Homo sapiens: one gene and its partner. The protein of the gene in region 1 purifies or fractionates together with the protein of each later gene. This does not show direct contact. Each region holds a gene or a part of one and is shown on either strand. Other genes may lie near its edges.

Region 1 (7,292 bases):
TGAAGTGACTTACTTAGGACCATGCAGGCCGTTCAGAGTGGGTCCAAGGTATGAATTCCAAATCCAGTGCTCCTTTACTTTATCACAATTAAATCACAAATTAAAGAATTGTGCCTTATGAAGGAAACCAAGTGGGTCCACTCTCCACCTGGCTTCTGGTCTTTATTCCACTGCAGTGAAGAAAGGAGCCCAGGCCACCAAGGAGATTCCAGCGGCTGCCCATACTGTTTGTGCCAGGCAGTGCAGGTAAGGAAGTGCTGGAATCCAGCCCCAGAATAGGCCCCCATTCTAAACTAAGGCTCATATCCTACAGGCACCATCTTCTATGCAGACCGTGAGATCTAGGGACTCAGACCCTTGGAAAAGTACTAACAACAGGATGTCTTCCAGACCATGACCTAATTGCTTGTTCTGGAAGTCCTGGCTTCTCTCCATCTCCCCCATCTCTCTTCCTCTCCGCCAGGTAACATCCTTTAGCGCTTACACTGAGTGCACATCGAGGAAGCTTGTAACCTAGCAACTGCCACTTAAGATTCCCTGAGTCATCTGTAGTTTCCATTGCCTGGGTTGAGTGCACCAAGATGGGGCCTTAAGGAGTGCTAATCGGAGGGAGAGTGTCCAGTGACTCCTTGGTCCCTCCCTACCCTATTCTAGTGTGTAACCATTTTCCTGGTCAGAAAGTTCTTCCTCATGTCAAATCTAAATCCTTCTTGCTCTAAAATCTTGCGTAACATTAAGCCGGTGTTTCTCTTTTGCCTTAAAAAGCATTTGAGTTTTTACGCTGGATGTGGTGGCTTGTGCCTGTCATCCCAGCACTTTGGGAGGCCGAGGCAGGTGATTACATGAGTCCAGGAGTTCGAGACTAGCCTCAAAAACATAGTGAGACCCTGTCTCTGCAAAAAATAAACAAAAATTATCTGAGCTTCGTGGCACATAATCCTAGCTACTAGGGAGGCTGAGGTGGGAGGATCACTTGAGCCCAGGGGGTAGAGGCTTCAGTGAAACAAGATCGTGCCACTGCACTCCAGCCCAGGTGACACAGCAAGACCCTGTCTCTCTAAAAAAAAAGTGTTTCATTTTTCCCCTTCATTACAAGGTAGGAGTGGGAGGTTGGGGAATTAAGGGAGGGAAAAGTCATAAAAGCCTCTAAAGATTACATCTTTGGTGCTGTGGAGTCTTTATTATAGATATTGGTGCATCAATCAAACTTGAGGATGCTCAGCCCCAGAAAAAAGTCACTCAGTACGTTTTGGGTTTTGTTTCTTTTTAAAAAGATGGGGTCTTGCTATATTGCCCAAGCTGGATTTGAACTCCTGAGGTCAAGTCATCTTCTTGCCTCAGCCTCCTGAGTAGCAGGGATTACAGGCATGCACCACCTTGACAGGCTCAGTAAGTCTTGGATTTGTTAAGGTCTAATTTACATACAATGAAATGCACAGTTTTACTCAGTCTCTATTGTCTGGTAGGCATTCAGCAGGATCCTGCCTTCACTAAACTGCGGTACCTTAGGGGGAAGTTGGGGGTGTTGTGGGGAACAGTTTCTTCCCAATAAACCAAGCAGATTCTCAGTGTGGCAGGCCATGGATGGAGTAACTGTGGGAAGGGTTTCAACGTCTGCTGGAATTCCAAGTGTAGGGAACATTTCAGGGGGATAGGAGGGAAGAGGAGTTGTTTAGTGATTAGCTGCTCCTTATCCCTCCCCAGAAATACTCTTTACCGGAGTGCCCTCTGCAGGGTACCACGCTGGCTGGAGGCACACACCAGGAACTCCCCGAGGCCAGGATCACCTTCTTTATGCAGTTTTCTTTCTGCAGCACCCCACAGACCATGTGGTCAGCATCAGACAGGCTGCATCTGAATCCTGGTGCAGCCACCTCCTAGCTGTGTGATTATGCACCAGTCACTTATGTCCTTGAATCTGAGTGTCCTCATCTGTGAAAAAGGGAATAAGCAAATCTACTTTCTAGAGTTGTAGGAGGAAGGAGATGCCAGGCATAGTTCCTGGGCACGTGGTAAGTACCTCATAAAGACTAGTTTCTTTCTTCCCCTTGTGATGGCAAGTTTCTGTACCTCTGACTTTCAGGCTAGTGTGCCCCCCAAGAGCAGGTGCCAGTTTCACAAGATAGGCAGCCTTACCAGGGCCCATACCCTCCTGTAGCCAATCACTTCTGGGCCTGTGTCTTAGACAGGATATCTTTTCTCCTAGCTAGCTGAAATCTCATCTGCTGCAACCTAAATTGCATTCTAATCTGGAGAACAGCTGTGCCCTTCCTTTAGCTAATCACCTTCTCATTCCTAACCAGAAGCATGGTCCTTATTCAGGGAGTGGGGAGTGAGGCTGACTCATCCAATTAGGACTGAGGCTGCCAGCAGACCAAGGAAAGGGTAGTTCCTCCCCCAGCATAGAGAAGCCTCATTAGGGCCTCCTCCCCACCAGTCCCAACATCAGCCCAGAGGAAGGATTTAGAGCTCACGTGGACTTGATGGGAGATGGTATGACACAGTTGCCAGCAGTCAGAACCAGGATCTGTATGTGATCATGTGGCACTGCTGCCTTGCAGGTGGAGGGCTGGAGTCCCGCAGAATGGCCTCAGTTATTCAGGTTCCCTTCCTGACCACGCAGCCTTGATTGGACAGTTGAATCAGCCACATTCCTTCAGCTATCCTCCCTGCTCCCTCCCACTCCAGTGCATAGCTGGTGCCTGGAACCTAGAGGGCCTTAGTGGGTATCCATTAACGAATGCATCTGTTCATCTGTAAGCAACTTCCTGCCTACTTAGGTAAAACTGGGACATTGGAAAGTGGACCCCAGATATGGGATGATGGGTAAAGGGAGGGAGTCATCTTCGTTTTCAGACTCAGGAGTTGCACAATGTAGAGAAGGAAGGGTTGGGAAGCCACACGCTCCTCTGCTGTTTAGTGCGTGCGGGAAGGTATGCTTCTCAAAGACCTCAGCTACTTCCCTGTGCTTACTGAGGAAATCGTAAGAGGAAATGGGGCTTACAATAAAGCCTGAGGATTTGAGTTATAAACAAGGAAGAATTTCCTGACCAGCAATGTCAGAAACCTGAAACACCAGCATGAGGTGAGGTGAGAGGCCACGGAGCTGCCTCCTGTATTGCCGCCCGGGCCATACTAGAAAAACACAGGACAGTCAGAAGACCTCTGCTACGTCTTGTTACGATGAAGGCTATGACCTCCAGCCTACGTTTTGTTGTAACCGGGCTGTGCAACTATGGGCAAGTCATATCCATTCTGGTGCCTGTCAAATTAGAAGGAAGGAAGGTGAAGAAGAGAGCAGCTGGGGTCCCTCCCAGCTGGAGTATTCTGTACTCTTGGGGTGCTATACAGGCGGGGAGCCCTAGAGAAAGAAGCATTTAGCCATAGTGACAAAGCAGCAGATTCTAGAACGAACACCCTCACATTCTGCCAGGTGATACGATCGCAGAGGTCTGGCCCCACCAGCTCTCACAAGCGCTGCCAGCTACCCCAGGTCCAGTCACCAGTGAAGACTTTATCAGGGCTTCCCCTGGCTACCCTCTCTTGCTACCACCACCCTCCTTTCTCTCCAATCAGCCCAGGACAAGGGGGTGCCTTGTGACAGCTGCAGCTGTGGCGAATGGGCTGGCTCCCTATAGACCTTGGGCACCCACCTGCTTCCTGTTGGGTTCTGACCTTTCTGGGGTGCCTGCTGCCAGGAGAGTATGCAAGGGTGGCAGAGGATGCAAGAGCTCAGGTCATCCCGACATGGCTCTTTCTCTAAAAGTGAAAACGTGCCCATTTGTCCCAGGTCACCAGGCTGGGGCCCTTAGGGGGCCTAATCTTCACCCCTTCTCAAGTAGAGGACAGCAGAGCCTTTATGAGGGCAGCTCTGCAGAGGAGAAAAGGCTATAGGCTGGGGAAGGCTGCAGCAGACCACTCAGACACGGCTCTTTAAATGCCCATTAGTAAGTTAATATTGCCCCTTCCAAAGTCAGCAGCATCCTCCATTCTTCTTAATTAAAAAGAGCTCCACGTCCTGGCAGAGCTGAGAGACGGCTCTGAATGATTTACACACCAGCCCTGCTGCTTCCAGCTGGGAAATCAGCAAGGAAGATTGATTGGCAGATGGGCCAGCCTGCCTATCATGATGGCGTGCGTGCCTGTGTGTGCATGTGTGTGTGTGCATGCATGTGTGTGCGCGCACGCATGTGTGTGTGCATGTGTGTGTGTGTGCTGAGGCACTGGGAGCTGGCTCTCCTTCTGGCAGGCTCTAAATGAGCAGGGCCACAGACCCACAGTCCAGCCCCATGGGGCTCTGCAGGCCTAGAGGTAGAGGGCCTGCTAGAAACAGAAGGCTAAACAAAAGGCTGGCCTGCTCACCCTCACCGGAGTCCCTCTTCCTAGGAAAACTGCCTTATTTGGAAGACAAAAGCTCATTTGTTGTCTCATCCCCACCCAGGAGAGAAGGGTCCACTCCCCGAAGATTCCTCTTGTTTCCACATAGAGATTCCTCACCTGGTACATAGCATATATTGGGCTTTTATTTGATCATCACTGCTCACTTTAAGAGCAGGCTTTCGATCTGTGAGCCCGCGGAGTATACACCATGAGCAAAGCTCACCCTCCCGAGCTGAAAAAATTTATGGACAAGAAGTTATCATTGAAATTAAATGGTGGCAGACATGTCCAAGGAATATTGCGGGGATTTGATCCCTTTATGAACCTTGTGATAGATGAATGTGTGGAAATGGCGACTAGTGGACAACAGAACAATATTGGAATGGTGGTAATATGAGGAAATAGTATCATCATGTTAGAAGCCTTGGAATGAGTATAAATAATGGCTGGTCAGCAGAGAAACCCATGCTCTCTCTCCATAGGTCCTGTTTTACTATGATGTAAAAATTAGGTCATGTACATTTTCATATTAGACTTTTTGTTAAATAAACTTCTGTAATAGTCAAAAAAAAAAAAAAAAAAAAGAGGAGGCTTTCTTGGCTGGGCGTAGTGGCTCATGCCTGTAATCCTATCACTTTGGGAGGCTGAGGCGGGCGGATCACCTGAGGTCGGGAGTTTGAGACCAGCCTGATCAACATGGAGAAACCCCGTCTCTACTAAAAATACAAAAATTAGCCAGGGATGGTGGCGCATGCCTGTAATCCCAGCTACTTGGGAGGCTGAGGCAGGAGAATCACTTGAACCTGGGAGGTGGAGGTTGCGGTGAGCTGAGATGGTGCCATTGCACTCCAGCCTGGGCAACAAGGGCGAAACTCCGTCTCAAAAAAAAAAAAAGGAGGTTTTCTCATGGCCTGCCTCTCCTTCCTTGCCTCCCTCCTAACTCCAAATTTTGTCTGACTCTGACATCCAGGGGGATCCAAGGCTGTGGGCCCTTTATGGGGCTGGGAAGAGGATGATGAGGTTCACAGTTTAGGCTGTTTAGGCTGGCATGACACTCAGCCCGGGCCCTCCAGAGAGCCGGGAAGTGACAGCAGTCACCCTGAAAGGTCCCAGGCCTCTTTGCTTCTCCCAGCAGGCCTTGAGGCAGCCTTGTTGTCCATCCCATGCCTCTACTCACTTCTAAGAGCCCACCAGCCTCCCTGGGTGCCAGAGAGGGAGGTCCCGCTCACTCTCCAGATGGAAGGAGGTGCCAGGTCACTGGGGCAGGACCTGTACAGAGGTAGGGAGTGGCTTTTGCTCTCTCCTCACCTCTCCCCTTCTCCTCTGGCACTTTACATTACACACACACACACACATACACACACCCCTTGTTCCCAGAGAAAGGACCAGACAGAGGCACACTGGAGAGGAGGGGGTGGGGACTGGAGCCCAGGCATCATCCAGTGCTTTGCTTTCACCCCCGCTCCCTAGGGAGACGGCAATCTGCTGCAGCAGCAAGGTTGCCATCTGGCGTGCTGACCTGTGCTCTCTGTGCTGGAGACGGGAGAGGGCGGGGACGCGTGATGAGCTGGCTGCGAGTGTGTTGTGTATATGTGTGTCTAAGAAGCCATGAGAGTCTGGAAAGGTGAGAACCAGGCCAAGCTTTGGGTGAATCAAAGGATCTGCCTGTCCTCATCACTCGGCACTCCTGGGGCAGGTGGGTGTGTACCTGAGGATCTCTAAGGAGCCCCAGGAAGCCTGCATTTCTCTCCCAGTGAAGGAGGGAGTGGCAGGGCCTTGGCCCTTGAGCATCCTCCTGTAGCCTGTCGCCAGGAGAATGTGGCTGCCTGCTTAGCACCCAGGAGCTGCCAGTCCATCCCTGCACATCACTAGGCAAGAAACAGAGGGACAATTTTATTCACACCCAGACCTAACAGCTGCCCCCCACGAGGAACCACCACTAGGGATCCAGTGTGTCCTTTGTTCCTCTCTAGTCCTGGCCCAGAAAGGACTATTTTCTTCCTTGGATGCCATCTCCCTGCTTTGGTCCCAGTCTTGGGAATTATGTTCTGAGAGATTCCTTGATAAAAATCCTCCCTAAATCACAGGTTGTACCTCAGTGCAGGGGTCAGCAAGCTATGCCTGAGGGCCAACCCTGGCCTGCTGCCTGTTTCTGTATGGCCTGAAATCTAAGAACAATTTTTACATTTTTAAATGATTGGGGAAAAAAAATCAAAAGAAAAATATTTTGGGATACATGAAAGTGATATGAAATTCACATTTCAGCATCTATAAATAAAGTTATATTGGAACACAGCCACACTCACTCATTTACGTGTTGTCTATGGCGGCTTTCCCACTACAACAGCAGAATGGAGTAGTTGCAACAGAGAGCGCATGGCCCGCAAAGCATAAAATGTTTACTATCTGGCCCTTTACAGAAAATGCTTGTGCCCTCCCCTGCACCTTAGGCTGTTTTAAGGGAACAAGGGGAATGCCACCTTATTCTTTTTATTTTTTGTTTTCTTGTTTGTGTGATACAAGGTCTCACTCTGTCACCCAGGCTGGAGTGCAGTGGCACCATCGTGGCTCACTGCAGCCTCCCGGGCCCAATCAATCCTCCCGCCTCAGTCTCCTGAGTAGCTGGGACTATAGACACGCACCACTCCCAGCTTGCCACCTTATTCTTGACAACGTGCTTCACACCACCGTGGCAATGTTAAGTTGACACGGCAATATCTAGTGGCAATAAAAGGAAACAAACATTTTGAGGGCCCTTGTTGTATACCAGGGACATTTACTCTGTTTATCACATAATCTCTACAACAACCTTGAGAGAAACAAGCACTAAGAGGTCTATTTACATAAGGAAGGAATGGGAGAGATTAGGAAACTCACCAAAGCTATTAGAGTTAGGCAGAACAGGATGCTGG
Region 2 (5,135 bases), on another chromosome or scaffold:
TTAAGAATTATAATCTTTGCTATTTATAGCATATCTTAATATTATGTAGAAAATATAAGTGTTATGCAAAGTAGTTTGTTTTGCTGATTTTTCCTCTTTAACCAACTTTTTTTGTTTTTTTCAGTTCATCTGCACCTAGAGCTTTTTCAAGAAAACTTAGGGAGGTGGCAAGGAGCACGTATAGCTGTACTTAGGCCTGGTTTCAAGGGCAAAAGCTAGAAGCCTTAGTAGGACCTAAAACTTTTTGTTTAATTGACAGTTTAAAAAAATTTTGATATTAGAGAAGTGGGAAGACAAAATTATAGAGTCATGGGTACAATATCTAAAAATGTGTGAATAAATTCTAAGAAAAAAAAAAAAGTAAGCTCTTAGCTCACAGCATTCCATGTTCTTAAAAACATGGCACCAGTCCTTGACAGAATCTCATTGAGTCTATGTGTCAAGCACTGAGTAGATGCTCAATAAACAGCTACTAAATAAAAGAATAAATTAAATATATTCTAGTGTCCTGTTACTGAACCACAGATATATCTATATTATATATAGTACTATATTCACATATACAATGTATTAGAAAGAGCAGTCTTTTGGGGGAAGTTATAAAATGATAAATGATCAATAGATAGTTTATTTATCACAGCAGTGATTATATTTTACATCAAAAATGACAAATTAAAAATGAAATATATCACTATCTATATAAGTATAACCTACTGATCTCCCATATTTTAATCCATTTTATGACCCAGAGACATTTTAATAGATACTACAAGATATATCATAACATTAATTATTTCTTAGAATTTTAAATATGGCTTATGTATCAGGCTTAACGAGTCAGCTAAAGTCTTTATCAGCTCCCTCAAAACTGATTCCAGGGTAAATTGGAAAGATTTGAAATCTGAATAGCATATAAAAGCATAATGTCTATGTTTTCCATAGTTAATTTATTTGCTGTTAGGCAGTTCTTCAGCCAACATCCTCTGTTTCTGACCAAAGTAGTGTATCTCAAGCAGGAATAGTAAGACAAGCAGGGTCATAGATCTTTATTGTTTCATCCCAAGAACAGTCAGCCACCTAGAAAACAAAAATGAAGTAAGAAGAAACGTATTTAGACATACAAAAATTCAAAATTGACAGCAAAAACTCAAGTCATTTAGAGTGTCGTAAATCATCCACTAGTAAACATATTTTTGAATAGGGAAAACATAGGGCTACGTTTTTGATAAAAGGTCCATATTCCCTTTTTAGGATATACCTCAGGGTATTCCAACTGATTCCCATTGATTGAGTATATTCCAATTGGTATATTTCAATTGACTGAGGTTTCCTATAAGAATGTCCCCCACCTTCACTTCACCCAACAGCTACATAATTCCCTACTATCTGATATAAATGTCGAAAAGATACGTTCCAGACTGTGAACAAGATGCTGTGCTCAATATTGTGGGACTGGAGAGGAAGATAAAGTAAAGCTCTTGCCTTCAAAAAATGGCTCATTCAAGACTGAGTGTGGAAGGTGCACTAACAGAGACTCTTAGGGGGACTATATGATTCCAGCTGGGACAGTGTCAGACAACTTCACAATGCCATGGCATTCCCACTGGACCTCTGTAGGAGGCAGACATAAAAGACAAGGACATTCACATCTACAGAGCCATAGGAAAACATGAAGGGAAGAAAGTCCAGGGTGTTCAGGAACTATGCATTAAAAACTTAGTGAATATAGCAATGTCTCCGGGTATAAAATTAATATATGAAAACCACTGTGTTTCTATATACTCGTTTTTTAATAGAAATGGATGAGGCAATTTTTAAAATTTATGTGGAAATGCCAGGACTTAGCCAAAAGAATCTTGAAATGAAACAAAGCTGCACTACTTAACACTAGCTGACTTCCAGACTCAGCACGAAACTACTGTAATCAAGACTGTGCAGGATTAGGATAAAGACAAGTAGATCAAAGGAAGAGAACAGAGTTCAGAAATAGGCCCCACACTTGGACAAATGGCTTTCAACAAAGGTACCAAAACAATTAAAGAGCAAAAGGAAAAAATAGTCTTTTCAATAAATGGTGGCAGAACAACTGAATATCCATAGGGAAAAAAGTGAATCCTGACCCCAACTTTGCACATAAAAATGAATTTGAGATGCACCACAGACCTAAATATAAAAGCAAACTGTATAACACTTTCAGAAAAAAAAAAAGGAAAATATATTCTCAATACAGAGGTAAGTAAAGATTTCTTAGGGATACAAAAAGTAATAATCAAAAATTTGGTAAGTTACACTCAATCAAAAATAAAACTTTTGCTCATCAAAAGACACTGTTAAGAAAATGAACAGGCAAGACACAGTTATATAAAATATTCATAAAATATACACCTGACAACTTGTATCAAGAATACATAAAGAACCAATACAACTCAATAATAAAAGGCAATCTAATGAAAAATGATGGGCAAAAGTAAGCACATAAAAAAGTGCTCAACATCATTAGGGATTAGGGAAATGCAAATAAAAATGACAATGAGATACCACCATATATTCACATTATGGCTAAAATTAAAGATTGACAACACCAAATGTCAGCAGGGATGTGGAACAGCTGTGATCACATACATTGCTGGTAGGGAAGGTATATGGTACCACCATTTTGGAAAACAATTTGGCCGTTTCTTACCAAGTTAAACACATACCTATCTTTTGACCCAGTAATTCCACTCCCAGATATTTGTCCAAGAAAAATGAAAACATATGTTTGCAAAACAATGTAGACACGAATGTTCATAGCAACTTCATTCACGATAGCAAAAAATCGAAAACAAGGCTGGGCAAAGTGGTTCATACCTGTAATCCCAGCATTTTAGGAGGCTGAGGCAGATGGATCACCTCAGGTCAGGAGTTTGAGACCAGCCTGGGCACCATGGTGAAACCCCACCTCTACCTAAAATACATAAAATGAGCCAGGTGTGGTGGTGTGCACCTGTAATCCCAGCTACTAGGGAGGCTGAGGTGGGAGAATCGCTTCAACCTGGGAGGCAGAGGTTGCAGTGAGCCGAGATCATGCCACTGCACTCCAGCCTAGGCAACAGAGTGAGACTCTGTCTAAAAAAAAAGGAAAACAACCAAAATACCCACTAACAAAAGAATCGGTAACAAATTGTAGTAAATTCATACAACAGCATGTGCTCAGCAAAACAAAGGGAGGAATTGCTAACAGGCTCAGTACCACGGGTGAAGCTCACAGGTAAGAGGCCAGAAACAAGTGAGGACATACAGAAGAGTTCCTTATAGAATTCTAAGACAGGCAAAACTCATCTAAGGTAAACAAACAAACAAACAAAAAGTCAGAACAATGTTACTCTTCTCACCTGGAGGGAAGGGTGGGGATAGGGGAGATTGGAAAGGGGTAAAAAGGAAACTGGGGGCTTTCCCAGTTTCCAATAACTGGGATGATGTGAATTTCACAGACGTATCTATTTGTCAAAAATGTATATCTAAGATTTGTAAATTTCAATATATGTGAATTATACCTAAAAATAGTAAAAATAATGTTAGCGATAACTAAACGATGTGTGAGAGTACAGGAATAAATAAAATAAGAATGTTGATAGTTGTTCAAGCTAAGTAATGAAGTTCGTTATCTGATTCTGTTACTTTGTATGTTTTCAAAATTTTCCACAATTTAAAAAAAAGAAGAAAAGAAACAAGGTAGGCAGTAAAATGAAAGATGAAGTAGCAAGAGAGTGCTTTTGACCAAAAGTATTTGCACTCCATTTCCCAGCCTTTCATGCTTATTACAAAGGCTGAAAATTACACAAGAGAAACCTCGTTTTGACTAATGTAATTTCTTGGCTATCACTAATTTTGAATAGTGATAGCCAATCATTCACTACCAATATTCTGAGATCAGAATCCAAGCTACAGAGAGCATTATAGACTTTTTAGTCAAACTTTTAAATTTAAAAACCTCACTCTTCAAGATCTGGTTGTTCCCATTTCATTTCTCATTGCACCGGGCTCACACCTCAAATCCAAGCATGCTGCTTATGCCTCTTCGCTCTTGTTCCTTTACTGATCGCTTCCCTTTAATAACTCCTCTTCTCCCTCCCTTTCTGTCTGCTCCTCTGTCCCCTTTGCCTTGCTCTGCCAGAGATGTCTCTTTTTTAAAAAATCAGTTTAGGTATCATCTCCTCTATGAAGTCATTCATTGTACCCATAATACTTGATTGTACTTATTTTCCCAACTGAAGACAAAGAGTTGTCTTCAGCTCTTTGAGGGCATGGACCATGTCTTATTAGAACATAACTCAATGAATATTGGCTCAACAAATTAATTTCATAGATTACAATTTCAGAGGTTAACTCTGTCCTCATGTTCACAATAGAGTAGCAGAGCTACAGCCAGAACCTAAACCTGTTGAATGTATCCACTAAAACAGTGCCTCATAGAAAAGGCAAACTGAAAACCATTATTTGCCTAATCTTGCAGTTTTCAGTTTTTATACCATAGGACACAAAGATCATTATGTTAAATTACCCCTGTCTCATCTATGCCTATTTTTTTCAAGTGCTGGGCCTTCCCACATGTTAAGCATCCGCTACTGGAGAGAAGAGAATCAGAGAAATAAGACTTAGGTTTCTAGTGCAAGGTATCTATAAATTATGTTTCTGAAACCTTATTCGGCACTCTCCAATCCAGCTTCTTATTTATTCAGGACTTATAATAACTACCAAATGTCAAGGCCACTGATTCAGCAAATGTTCATAAATCTATACTTAATTGGATTAAGATAGATCTAAAACTGCAATGATATAGAATTATGAATAGATTAATTCAAATTGATGAAAATAGTATTCCTCTATTTGTTAATTAAGCCCTATCTGGTTCTACAAATTTAAGCAAGCTAACAATAAAGAAAATAATAATAAGGTAAGAAAAAAGCACTTTACTAACTAACAAAGAGGCTCTAGATTCTCCAAGGTTGCTATGTAGGAACTTCCTGGTAAGGAAAAACTATTGTGCCATGTGGTCCCCAGGGGACCTCTTATTAATTATCACTGCCACTGCAATGGCTTCTGGTAGCACTGCAAGATTTTGTTGAGTAGAGAGAGCCCCTCACATAATAAAA

Evidence for each region.
Region 2: the proteins of KLHDC8A (region 1) and PEX7 purify together in Homo sapiens (affinity purification with mass spectrometry; 2 studies listed by BioGRID and IntAct, with this or other methods). This does not show direct contact.

The regions. Positions count from the first base shown.
Region 1 is NC_000001.11:205,346,659-205,353,950, forward strand, and holds part of KLHDC8A (kelch domain-containing protein 8A), read right to left. Parts: intron 1,933-7,292; exon of another isoform or gene 1,718-1,932; intron 1-1,717.
Region 2 is NC_000006.12:136,909,400-136,914,534, reverse strand, and holds the end of PEX7 (peroxisomal biogenesis factor 7), read right to left. Parts: intron 1,078-5,135; coding exon 1,009-1,077; 3' UTR 601-1,008; downstream 1-600. UniProt on the Homo sapiens protein: Receptor required for the peroxisomal import of proteins containing a C-terminal PTS2-type peroxisomal targeting signal. Specifically binds to cargo proteins containing a PTS2 peroxisomal targeting signal in the cytosol.